Homo sapiens: one gene and its partners. The protein of the gene in region 3 purifies or fractionates together with the protein of the main gene of each other region. This does not show direct contact. Each region holds a gene or a part of one and is shown on either strand. Other genes may lie near its edges. The genes, in order: RAB6B, DAGLB and PCDHAC2.

What was found.
Region 1: the proteins of PCDHAC2 (region 3) and RAB6B purify together in Homo sapiens (affinity purification with mass spectrometry; 2 studies listed by BioGRID and IntAct, with this or other methods). This does not show direct contact.
Region 2: the proteins of PCDHAC2 (region 3) and DAGLB purify together in Homo sapiens (co-immunoprecipitation; 3 studies listed by BioGRID and IntAct, with this or other methods). This does not show direct contact.

Annotation. Positions count from the first base shown.
Region 1 is NC_000003.12:133,833,266-133,836,917, forward strand, and holds part of RAB6B (ras-related protein Rab-6B), read right to left. Parts: intron 1,377-3,652; coding exon 1,310-1,376; intron 1-1,309. UniProt on the Homo sapiens protein: The small GTPases Rab are key regulators of intracellular membrane trafficking, from the formation of transport vesicles to their fusion with membranes. Rabs cycle between active GTP-bound and inactive GDP-bound states.
Region 2 is NC_000007.14:6,441,373-6,445,024, forward strand, and holds part of DAGLB (diacylglycerol lipase-beta), read right to left. Parts: intron 1-3,652.
Region 3 is NC_000005.10:140,976,466-140,980,117, reverse strand, and holds part of PCDHAC2 (protocadherin alpha-C2 isoform 1 precursor), read right to left. Parts: intron 1,170-3,652; coding exon 1,111-1,169; intron 1-1,110. Other genes in the region: PCDHAC1 (protocadherin alpha-C1 isoform 1 precursor), read right to left, coding at 1,111-1,169; PCDHA13 (protocadherin alpha-13 isoform 1 precursor), read right to left, coding at 1,111-1,169; PCDHA12 (protocadherin alpha-12 isoform 1 precursor), read right to left, coding at 1,111-1,169; PCDHA11 (protocadherin alpha-11 isoform 1 precursor), read right to left, coding at 1,111-1,169; PCDHA10 (protocadherin alpha-10 isoform 1 precursor), read right to left, coding at 1,111-1,169; PCDHA9 (protocadherin alpha-9 isoform 1 precursor), read right to left, coding at 1,111-1,169; PCDHA8 (protocadherin alpha-8 isoform 1 precursor), read right to left, coding at 1,111-1,169; PCDHA7 (protocadherin alpha-7 isoform 1 precursor), read right to left, coding at 1,111-1,169; PCDHA6 (protocadherin alpha-6 isoform 1 precursor), read right to left, coding at 1,111-1,169; PCDHA5 (protocadherin alpha-5 isoform 1 precursor), read right to left, coding at 1,111-1,169; and 4 more. UniProt on the Homo sapiens protein: Potential calcium-dependent cell-adhesion protein. May be involved in the establishment and maintenance of specific neuronal connections in the brain.

The DNA of each region.
Region 1 (3,652 bases), on a different chromosome or scaffold from region 3:
AGTTTAAGTTTCTGAGCCTCAGTTTCCTTATCTGTGATTGGAGTCTCATAACTGACCAACCAGGAGATACTCCTCAAACCCCCTCCTCTCGGCCACTGCTTGTCCTCTGGTGACACACAGACCGTGGGACTGCTGGGGCACCTGCTCCTTGGTGAGCCTTCCTGACCCCCCCGGGGGGTGGGTCTCGAGTCTGCTCTGAGAGCTCCTTGAGCAAGGCTGGAGAGGCCTAGCTTCCCTCCAGGCCTGTGTCAGGCTCCCCCTTGCTGCAGCCCTGGGACTCCTGGTGTCCTGCCCGCCCTGCCCCAGCAGCTCCATGAGGCCTCCAACATTAAGCTGTGTGCTTCTTTTGCTTTTGATTCTCATCAGCCCAAAGGTGCCCTTCCATCTTCCCAGGGCCCTTCTTTGATCTGTCAGGGATGTCTACCCTCAGAGGCCTATAGGATCAGTGGGGGATGTTGGAGAGCTGCTGTGTAGGGACAGGTCCACTGTAAAGGATGCCAGCCAGGGATCTGCATGCTTGTTTTCTGGTGGCTTACTCAGGCAGGGACATCTGACTAGATGCAGGGGAGGCCCAGGTGTGGGCAATGGCTTCCCCTGCTGAAACAGTTTTCATCTGATTCTCTCAAATGCCCTTAGAGGGACAGTGTCCCACATGGAATAGGGCTGGATATGGAGGAAGCAAGCCTGAGTGTGAATCCTAACTGTAACTTACATGCTGTGTGACACTGGGCAAACCAGACTACCTCTCTGAACCTCAGTTTCAGCATCTAGGTGTCTCTTCAGGTTGGGGCTGGTTTGTGGGTGATGCGCAATGGTCCCACAGATCAGTGGGGAGCCTCAGGAGCTGTTCAGGGCTGGGTAGAGAAGGTGGGCGGGACAAGGAGGGGGCATCTGTCTGAAGGGGGGAGCTGTCTTGAGTAGACTGAACCACGTTGAGATCATATCCCCAGTGACAGAGACTTCCCTGCAGTGGAGACTCTGCCTGTGTTCATGAAACCCATAAACATGCTCGCTGTAAAGAAGGGCAAAGTCGCTGTTTCTCACTCCCCACCCCACAGCATCACTCTGTGCACACCCCTTTGGTATCTTCCTGCTATTCTGGAAGAAGAAGTAGATGGTTAGAGCCAGACGGGGGCTCCAAACCATAGGGTTCAGCTGCATCCCGCCTAGAGGAGGCCCCGTGCCATTCGCGGCAGACCAGGGAAGGCTGGGCGGGGACTGGGCGAGTGTCTGTCCACTGCACTAACATATTCAGTGAATAAATGGCTTCTATACATCTTTTCACTCACTTGTCAAAGGAAAAGGATACTCCCTTCTTTGCTTTTCTCCTGGACATTCTCCATTCCGGGTAGAGCCGACGCCACACGTCGAAAAAGCTGGAAAGATGAAGAAATGCAGTGTGAACCCCAACCCTGGCCCTCCCCTCTGCTCCTCACTGCACCTGCACCCTCACCCCTCTTCCCCTCCCAACCTGCAGCTTTACTCTCCCATCTGCCCAGCGGACGGTGCCCTCAAAGGCAGGGGCTGTGCCTATGTTCTCTCTCCCCCACCTCTCACAGCATTGGGTCTGGGCAGGCCTCAGTAGCTTGTGGAAGGAAGGAACAAAGCTGTGGCCTCTCACCCAAGCAGACTGGCCATAGGGTCACTGGGATGAGCTTAGGTCATGGCAGTGACTGCAAGGGACTTCCTCTGGTGCAGAAAATGGTTTGGGCCTCTGGGTGACAGGCCTTAAGGTGGGCTTCTGCAAACAGCCCTCATGGGGACCAGGCATGGGGAAGTGACTTGCCCTTGAGATGAATGACTCTGCTTGGGGAGCCCTGCAGGTCCGGCGCCAAGGCAGCGAACAGCAGGGCCAGGGCTGCATGGGCACAGTGGTGAGGCTTCTCTGAGAGCGCGAGGGATGCAGGAGTGTGAACACAATTTTGTGGGCTTGTTTGGATGTGTAGGAGTGTGAGTTGTTTATTGTGTGTAGGAGTGTGTGTACAGTGTATGTGTTTTATCTGTAGGACTGCGTGGAAAATGTGTGTGTTGTGAGTGGTGCGTGTGGGTAGGTGCATGTATGTTTGTGTAAGCATATGGGGGAATGTTTGAGTGTGGTGTGTGTGAACGTGTGGCATCTTTATGTGTGTGTTTGTGTAAGTGTGGGGGGAATGTGTGCATAGTGTGTGTCCTTGGTAAGGTGTGTGTCTGCGTACATGTGGGTTTTCTGTGTGTGTGTGTGTGTGTGTGTGTGTGTGTTTGGGCAGGTGTGGGTGGCAGGGGACAGGTGGCAAGTGGCAGATGGGGTGCTGGCAGAGATGGAATCTTGGAGGTGACAGGTACGAGGCAGAAGTATGAGGCACAGAAGACTCTGAACTGCTAGGTTCTGAATGCCGGTCCCCCTGCAAATTCCTATGTTGAAACAGAATCTCCAATGTGACAGTATAAAGAGGTGGGGCTTTAGGAGGTGCTTAGTCAGGAGGGTAGAGTCCTCATGAACGGGATGAGTGCCCTTATGAATGAGGCCCGAGGGAGCCTGTCTGCCCCTTCCACCTTGTGAGGATGCAGCAGGAAGGTGCCATCTAGGAGGAAATGGGCCCTCACCAGACACTGAATATGCCTGCACCTTGACCATGGAGTTCCCAGCCTCCAGAGCTGTAAGCAATACATTTCTGCTGTTTATATGCTACCCTGCCTATAGTGATTTGTTACGGTAGCCTGAAAGGACTAACCCAGGAGCACTCCCGCTGTCCTCACAAATGTGAATTGCAGGAACTGGGTGGGCTCTGGGCTCATACCCTCCACTGCATGAGCTCTCTGAAGACAGGGTGAGTCTTATTCATGGCCTCACCCCAGAGCCCAGCCCCAGCTGAGCACCCGGGCTGGGTGACAGGGCTAAAGGCCATGAGGGCCCAAGGGGGGAAGCTGCTGGTGGGCCCAGCATGGTGTGAGACCCTTGTGGGCGGGCTGCAGAGGAGGCTCTGCAGTGGGGTAGCCATTAGTAGGCAAGGGTAAAAGGGCCCAGGCCATCCTTCCTGAGCTTTCCTTCATGGCATTGGCCCTGGGCGGCTCTGATCTGCCTGTCTGGCTCTCAAAACAGTCACAGCCTCTACTAGTGGCCAAAATGCCACTAGGGATTTTGAAGGGTGCTCTAGGATCAGGTATGGGTTTCTAGGGTCAGGTATGGGTTTCTGTGAGTGGATATGCTCACATTTAGATCCAGGAGTCTGCACTGCATGGACACTCCTCTGAGCCACACAGGGTTCGAAACTGACCACATTTAACTCCTGCTAAACCACTGCATGGGTTCCAGAGCACTCTGGGGGTAGGGGCATCAGTGCCTCCCTGACCCTGACGGCTGAGGCAGATGCTACCTGCCCTATGGACCTCCTGGTGCTGCCCTGCCCTCCCTCTGCTTCCCTGCTTCCCATGACTTTAGGGCTCCCAAAGAGTAGCAGCCCAGTCTCTCCTGCATGCCCCCAGGGAGCAGGAAGGACCATGACAGCTTCAGCCCCACACCAAGGGAGGCTGGGAACAGATGGGAGTGAGTGAAGCCCTGATGAGGACACTCTAGTTAGGGTGGGGCACTGAGTCCTGGAGCTTTGGGGCCCCCAGTGTCACATAGTGTCCCTTCCACCCTTCTTGTCTCTTCTTGTCGTTCTGCCAGCCCACC
Region 2 (3,652 bases), on a different chromosome or scaffold from region 3:
GAGCCACCGCGCCCGGCCACAAACTGACAATTAAACAAACATTTTTTTCTTTTTTTTTTTTTTGAGACAGAGTCTCACTCTGTCGTCCAGGCTGGAGTGCAATGGCGCGATCTCGGCTCACTGCAACCTCCGCCTCCCGAGTTCAAGCGATTCTCCTGCCTCAGCCTCCCGAGTAGGTGTGACTACAGGGGCCCGCCACCACGCCCAGCTAATTTTTTGTATTTTTAGAAGAGACGGGGTTTCACCGTGTTAGTCAGGATGGTCTTGATCTCCTGACCTCATGATGCACCCGCCTCAGCCTCCCAGAGTGCTGGAATTACAGGTGTAAGCCACCGCGCCTGGCCTTCAATACATATTTTTAATAAGGCATATAATGTTATGTGCAACAAACTGACAATTAAACGAACATGTTTTTATAAAATACTGTTTTCAGTTTGGCTGGGATATCTCTACCCACAAGTTACAGAAAATTCAACTCAAACTGGCTGAAAAGCAGGAAGGGCCACAATGACTCGAGCGACTGAGTGCAGAAGCAAGACGGCATCGGGGCTGCCCTGACCGAGACAAGCCTCCATCTCCTTGTGCTTCTCCCAGCTCTCCCCTGCCCTGTATGTCAGCTTGCCCTGCGCTGTGAGTGGAGACACAGCTTCAGCCAGGAGAGCGACGATAAATGGCTTTTGGATCCTTCCTAGAGGGGCAAGGAAGCACTTCCCCAGAACCTTCCACCAAACTCTCCCTGACTCTCACTGGGCCAAACTGGGTCACGTGTCCATTCCTGAACCAATCACCAATACGTGAGCCCGGCCTAGGGTCTGCTTCTCTGACGCATACTTGGTATGTGTGGGATGGGGGCAAAACAAAACGGGGTTCTGTTTGGAGGAGGCTGTGGGATAGACAACCCAGAACACTCCGACAACCCACAGATGACTTCTGAGCTCTGACCACAAGTACATGATGATGCAAGCATTGTACGAGTGTCTAGGAAGAGGGAACGGAGTGAATATGAGCATCCCTCACAGGGAGGTAAAGACGTCCCAACACCAAAAATATCTCAACACAAACAAACATGTAAGGAAAAAAAAAAGTACACCGACTGCTTCCACTCTGACCCTGCTATTACAGCCACAAACTCAGTGGTCTAACCAGAATGTGAGATGAACAAAAAAGGGCAAATAAGTTAGATAATGCTGTATCTGAAATGACACCAGTCTCAATACTTCACCTTCAATAAGAAGCTTCCCAGCGCTGAAGCCACACTGTACACATGGTTTCTTTCTTTCCTTAAGCATCTGGCACCAATGACAGCCTACATTTGGGGGCCAACACAAACGTGGAGCCTCCATCAATCCAGCCTCCTTGCGTGGATGTTTCTAGAGGCATACTAAAATACACAGAGCTAGCTGGGTGCAGTGGCTCACACCTGTAATACCAGCACTTTGGGAGGATGAGGTGGGTGGATCAGCTAAGGTCAGGAGTTCGAGACCAGCCTGGCCAACATGGTTCAACTTTGTCTCTACTAGACCAGGTGCAGTGGCTCACGCCTATAATCCCAGCACTTTGGGAGGCTGAGGCGGGCGGATCACGAGGTCAAGAGATGGAGACCATCCTGGCTAACACAGTGAAACCCCGTCTCTTCTAAAAATACAAAAAAAAAAAAAAAAATAGCCAGGCACGGTGGCGGGCGCCTGTAGTCCCAGCTACTTGGGAGGCTGAGGCAGGAGAATGGCGTGAACCCGGGAGGCGGAGCTTACAGTGAGCCGAGATAGAGATAGTGCCACTGCAGTCCAGCCTGGGTGAAAGAGCGAGACTCCATCCGGAAAAAAAAAACAAAAAACAAAAAAAACAAAACAAAACAAACAAAAAACTTTGTCTCTACTAAAAAAAAAAAAAAAAAAAAAAAAGAAACTGTCTCTACTAAAAATACAAAAAAATTAGCTGGGTGTGGTGGCACGTGCCTGTAATCTCAGCTAGTTGGGAGGCTGAGGCAGAATTGTTTGAATCTGGGAGGCAGAGGTTGGTTGCAGTGAGCTGAGATTACGCCATTGCAGTCCAGCCCTGGGCAACAAGGGCAAAACTCTGTCTCAAAAGAAAAAAGTAAAATAAAATACACAGAGCTCTGTTTTCTATGTTACTGTGGTAATCAGGCACATGCCACTCTTGCTGGTCATCCCAAACCCTAAGGTCTTTTTCTCATGAAAGATGTTGCTGCTAACATTTCTACCCTCTACATTGCTCCTATGAGCTAACACCTTTTACATTTCAGTCCTTTATTCCAAACTGTCAAGATCTTGATGCCGTCACTCACTGTATCACCAGCGCCTCCCAGTGCACCTCACCACCAGCATATATCTGATATGCATACCTCGTCCATCCCAATTCAAGCAGTGACAAAGGACTAAAACATGGCGGATGGTGGCATGTCACACAGCCCTGCCTCTGACCAATGAATCATTTCTAAGAATGCATTCCTTTATTAGTCACCACAGTGCTCACATCATCCTATGAAGCAGAGGAATCCAACAGGGAAGGTTTCCAACACTTCTGGAGACATTCTCAGATAAATGGTTATCTACAGAAAACTGTAACACATATAAAAAATATGAAGAATAGGTGATCAGACGCGGTGGTTCACCCCTGTAATCCTAGCATTTTGGGAGACCGAGACGAGAGGATCACCTGAGCCCAGGAGTTCAAGATCAGTCTAAGCTATATAGCAAGACCCTGTCTCTACAAAAAATAAAAATAAAAAAAATTAGCCAGGTATGGTGGCACGTGCCTGTACTTCCAGCTACTTGGGGGTTGAGAAGAGAGGATTGCTTGAGCCCAGGTATTTGAGGCTGCAGTGAGCTATGATTGCGCCACTGCCCTCTAGCCTGGGCAACAGAGCAAGACACTGTCTCTAACAACAACAAAATAGTTGTAACCCTCACAATGTAAAAATAAAAGGGACCAGGCGCGGTGACTCACACTTGTAATCCTAGCACTTTGGGAGGTCGAAGCGGGTGGATCACGTGAGGTCAGGAGATCGAGACAAGCCTGACCAACATGGTAAAACCGCATCTCTACTAAAAATACAAAAATTAGCCAGGCGTGGTAGCGGGTGCCTGTAATCCCAGCTACATGGGAGGCTGAGGCACAAGAATCACTTGAACCCAGGAGACGGAGGCTGCAGTGAGCAGAGAGCACGCCACTGCACTCCAGCCTGCGCAGCGGAGGGAGACTCTATCTCAAAAAATAAAAATAAAAAATAAAAGGATCAATAGCCTAGTCTAAAATTGGGCAAAAGATCTGAACAGACATTTCCGCAAAAATGATACACAAATGAGCAATAAGCAAATGAAAGGATGCTCAACATCATTAGTCACCAAAGAAATGTTCCTCAAAGCCATGAGACAAAAAACAAATGGCCTGTGGCCCCAGCTATTCGGGAGGCTGAGGCAGGAGAATCACTTGAACCCGGGAGGCAGAGGTTACAGTGAGCCGAGATTGCGCCATGGCACTCCAGCCTGGGTGACAGAGTGTGACTCCGTCTCAAAAAAACAAAACAAAACACAACAAAACAAAATCATGAGCTACCACTTCACATTCACTAGGATGGCTATAATTAACAAGTCATATAATAAGAGCGTTGGGCAATTAGAACCCTTATACA
Region 3 (3,652 bases):
CCCAGGTTCCAATGTGACATCTTACCAAGCCAACTACTAATCTTCAGCCCTTCACTGATTGCTTCTGAATCAGAAATAGCACCCAATGTAATGATTTCTGCTCATTTGTAATGCTTGAGAGTATGTTAATTTATTTCAATCTAATGCATTTTAATGGGCTAAAACTAATTTCACATTAACTCTACACATACTTTGTAGGCTTTCTCTTTACGAACTGATCTAAGTTTGGTGAATATTCACTTGATAGTTGCCCAGATATTTTGAGGGGCTTAAGTTTGAAGATTATTTCTTCTTTAAAATTAAATCCTTTTGATAGTTGTGATCATTTGTTTCTTGGTCCTTCCCATTTGGTTTCCAAAGACATTCGCAAATAATGAATCTTTTATTTGGCCCCATGGCATGGATACTGGATCACCTCCAGAAATAATGGTAGTTAATCAATTACTGTCAGAGAGACAAAGTAGAGAAAGCAAAATTATATTTAATCTGAGTCTTAGACTAATACCGTTACTCTAGGTTAATTTAAAGTAAGCTAGATTTGGAGCCCTTTACATGGCTCATCTTCTGAAGAACCATGTCATTGATGACAATAAGATAGCAACAGATGGGAAAGATGAGGAGGCTCTAATAGGTGTGAACACAAACAACAATAGCAATCAATTATTGAGGGTAATAGGATGTAATAGCCAATGTGAGATTAAAAAAAAAACAAGGTAGACAACATGTATGTATACATTGCACAATGTACCCAAGTCTCAAAGCATGAGTATTAATTACAGTTTTTAAAGGAGGAAAAGAAAGCATAGGTAGAGAGGGATGAAGGAGGTTGAAATTACTTCCCTGTAGAAATTTTGATGGGAGAAAATACATAGCAGCCTGTTTCTGTGATTTTACAGAGGACTCTTATATGCCAGCACTTGATAAGCATCTGGCACTGACCATTTGCGATCTTTCAAGGAATAAACATGGGGACAAAATAATTGCATTTTCCTGGCAAAGTACCTAAAGCTTTTTAGTTTTGACAGCTGCTTCTGGCCTATGGAGATGCAGTTTATCTGAGCCATACCAAGTTAAGGTTACTTCTGAGTGAATGAGGAGGGAAATACATACCTGTGCATGCCTGCTCTCAGGGAGGCAGAGTAACGCCAGTCAGGGTTGGGCTGTCGTGGCTGCAAAATCACAAAGAGAGTTTTCTGTTAAAATGACAAGACAATGTTCTCCCAGGAATGCTGCTAATTGATTAGTTACTCCCTTAAATATTTCCAGGCATCTAAAAAAGTATTGAATGAGCCATTTCATGTGTAACTCTATGATGATATCTACATATATAGCACTTTAGAAGAAAATTAGTTCATCAGGGTCCTCACACAGATTAGATACCCTGGAAGACCAGATTTAATAATCTTGTAAAGGCCACCTTTGGCTTTGCCTTGCCCAATACATGTCTGTGTTCTTAAAACACTACGGGAAGAACAGTCTGCTTTGAGAAAGGAAAAGCTTTCACTGCTTTTGCCCTCAAGTGCCCCATTAAGGGAACATTCCCAATTCAGTATTACAGCTATAACAGGGCACATGGCTACACAAGTTCTGCTGGCCTGGCTGGACTGCAGAGGACTGCAATCTGCTGCTGGCTTTGCAGACTGCAGCATATTTGACCCAGGGCGGATGTGCCCAGTCATAACACCAGCAACTGATAACAGTCTCTTTTCTGATTGAAGAGGGATACTAGGGAGAGGAAAACAAACTATTGCAGAGTTTGACCTTGTTTTGCTAGCTAATCCTTTTCATAAACTTGTACTTGTTCCTGCTCCTTCCTGAGTGCTTTCCCTCCTCACTGAATCACTGTTCACTAAGCTCTGATTGTTTAACAGGGAGTAGCTGAAATCCAAGAAAAACCTGATACATTTTGCATTAGTTGTGTATTGAAAAGATCTGTTGCCCTCTCTCTACAAACTCTCAGTCTGAAGGGGGAGAACAAAGAGGAAAATATGGGCACCTAAAGACTTAAAGACTGTTGGGGGAGTTATGTGCTGGTTAGAAGCTACTCAGAAATCACTGGGACATCATCAGTCACCATCACTGTCTTGTATCAGTAAGCAAAAATGTCACTGTGAAAAACTTGTGACACTCCTCTAGATGCGTTTTCATGGGCGGAGATTGAGGTGGCCCTGTCACTGAATATTGAGGTATAGTTGAATGAAAAAAATGGGGGATAAAAGTTGTATTTTGTATTTTCCTCTACATTATACTTACCATATTTGGTAGAAACAAAGCCATAGTAATATCAATAGACCATTCAAAACTGTCAATAATTCTTATTCCTATCATTCATATAGTTCCTTTAAGGGATGCAAAGTATTTAATAAACACATTTCTTCATAACACCCAGGAGAGAAATGATCACCATCTCAATATTCAGACAGATTTCTGGATGGCTACATGATATTTGGCATGCAGAGAATTAGCCAAAGTCAAGGCCCAGAAAAAGTTACAACTCTGGGATACTTTACCTCAATGGTCCTCACATGCTAACTGCTCTCTCTATTCTACCAATCTGCTAGCAAGATATGCATATGCAAGCTGCTTCCTCCTTTGTTTTCAAGTTCACAAAATGCTGTGGATATTCCATATAACATAGCATAAAATTATCTACAGACCAAATCAAAGGAGTTTCCATTATCTACTAGCGGTGTTAGAGGGAACAAAAGAAAATGTTTGCAAATCATTTTATAAACCTGGAAATATGACTAAAATACTTTTTATCAATCAGTCATCATCACCGTCTCTCCCCTCGCCATCAGGAGCACTATCGTTAGCTTGTCAGCTGAGAGAACCTTCCTTTGAGAAAGACTGTAACATCTGCTGAGAAATGTTGCCAATTTTTCTATGATTGGGTAACATTCATGATGAAAATTGCTGCAACTTGATCTTTGGAATGAAATCATCAAACTCATTTTGCTGAAAGGCACAGTTCCAGCAGGACTGACCAGGAAACTCAGTTCATTATACAATCTCACTTCCCCAATGACACATTTAATTTGTCATGCTGCTATTTTCTATACTAGTCCATCAGCAACAACATCCTTCTTAGATTCATTTGACAGAATCACAGTTACAAGATTTCTTATGGCAGTAAGATCAGGCAGGGAAAAGGAAAGGAAGAAAGCATATAATATGTTTTAAGTAGCTACACAGTACTAGATTTTGCACTTTATTACATACTGTTGCATGTATCCTAATTCTTTCTTTGTCAGACAGTAAACTCTATGAAAGGGATTATATCTGTTTTGCTCATTAGACACATGCATATCTTCAGATATTCATAAAAGCGTAGCTATATAGTCAGAGTCTAGCAGGCTTCTGGCATCTGGGAGGTTTTTAAAATGTGTTTAAATAAATGAACTATAATGCAAAGTCAACATTATTGTACTTAAATTGCAAAAATGAGACATCTGAACTTTGGAGAGATTAAATTACTTGTCTGATTGCTGAGTTCAGCTGACAGTCATGTTTAGGTCCCCTTAACACAAAAGTCTGTGTTTTATTTATATTTATTTATTTATTTATGAGATAGGGTCTTACTCTGTCATTTAGGCTGGTGTGCAGTGGCGCGATCTTGGCTCCCTGCAACCTCTGCCTCCCGGATTCAAGC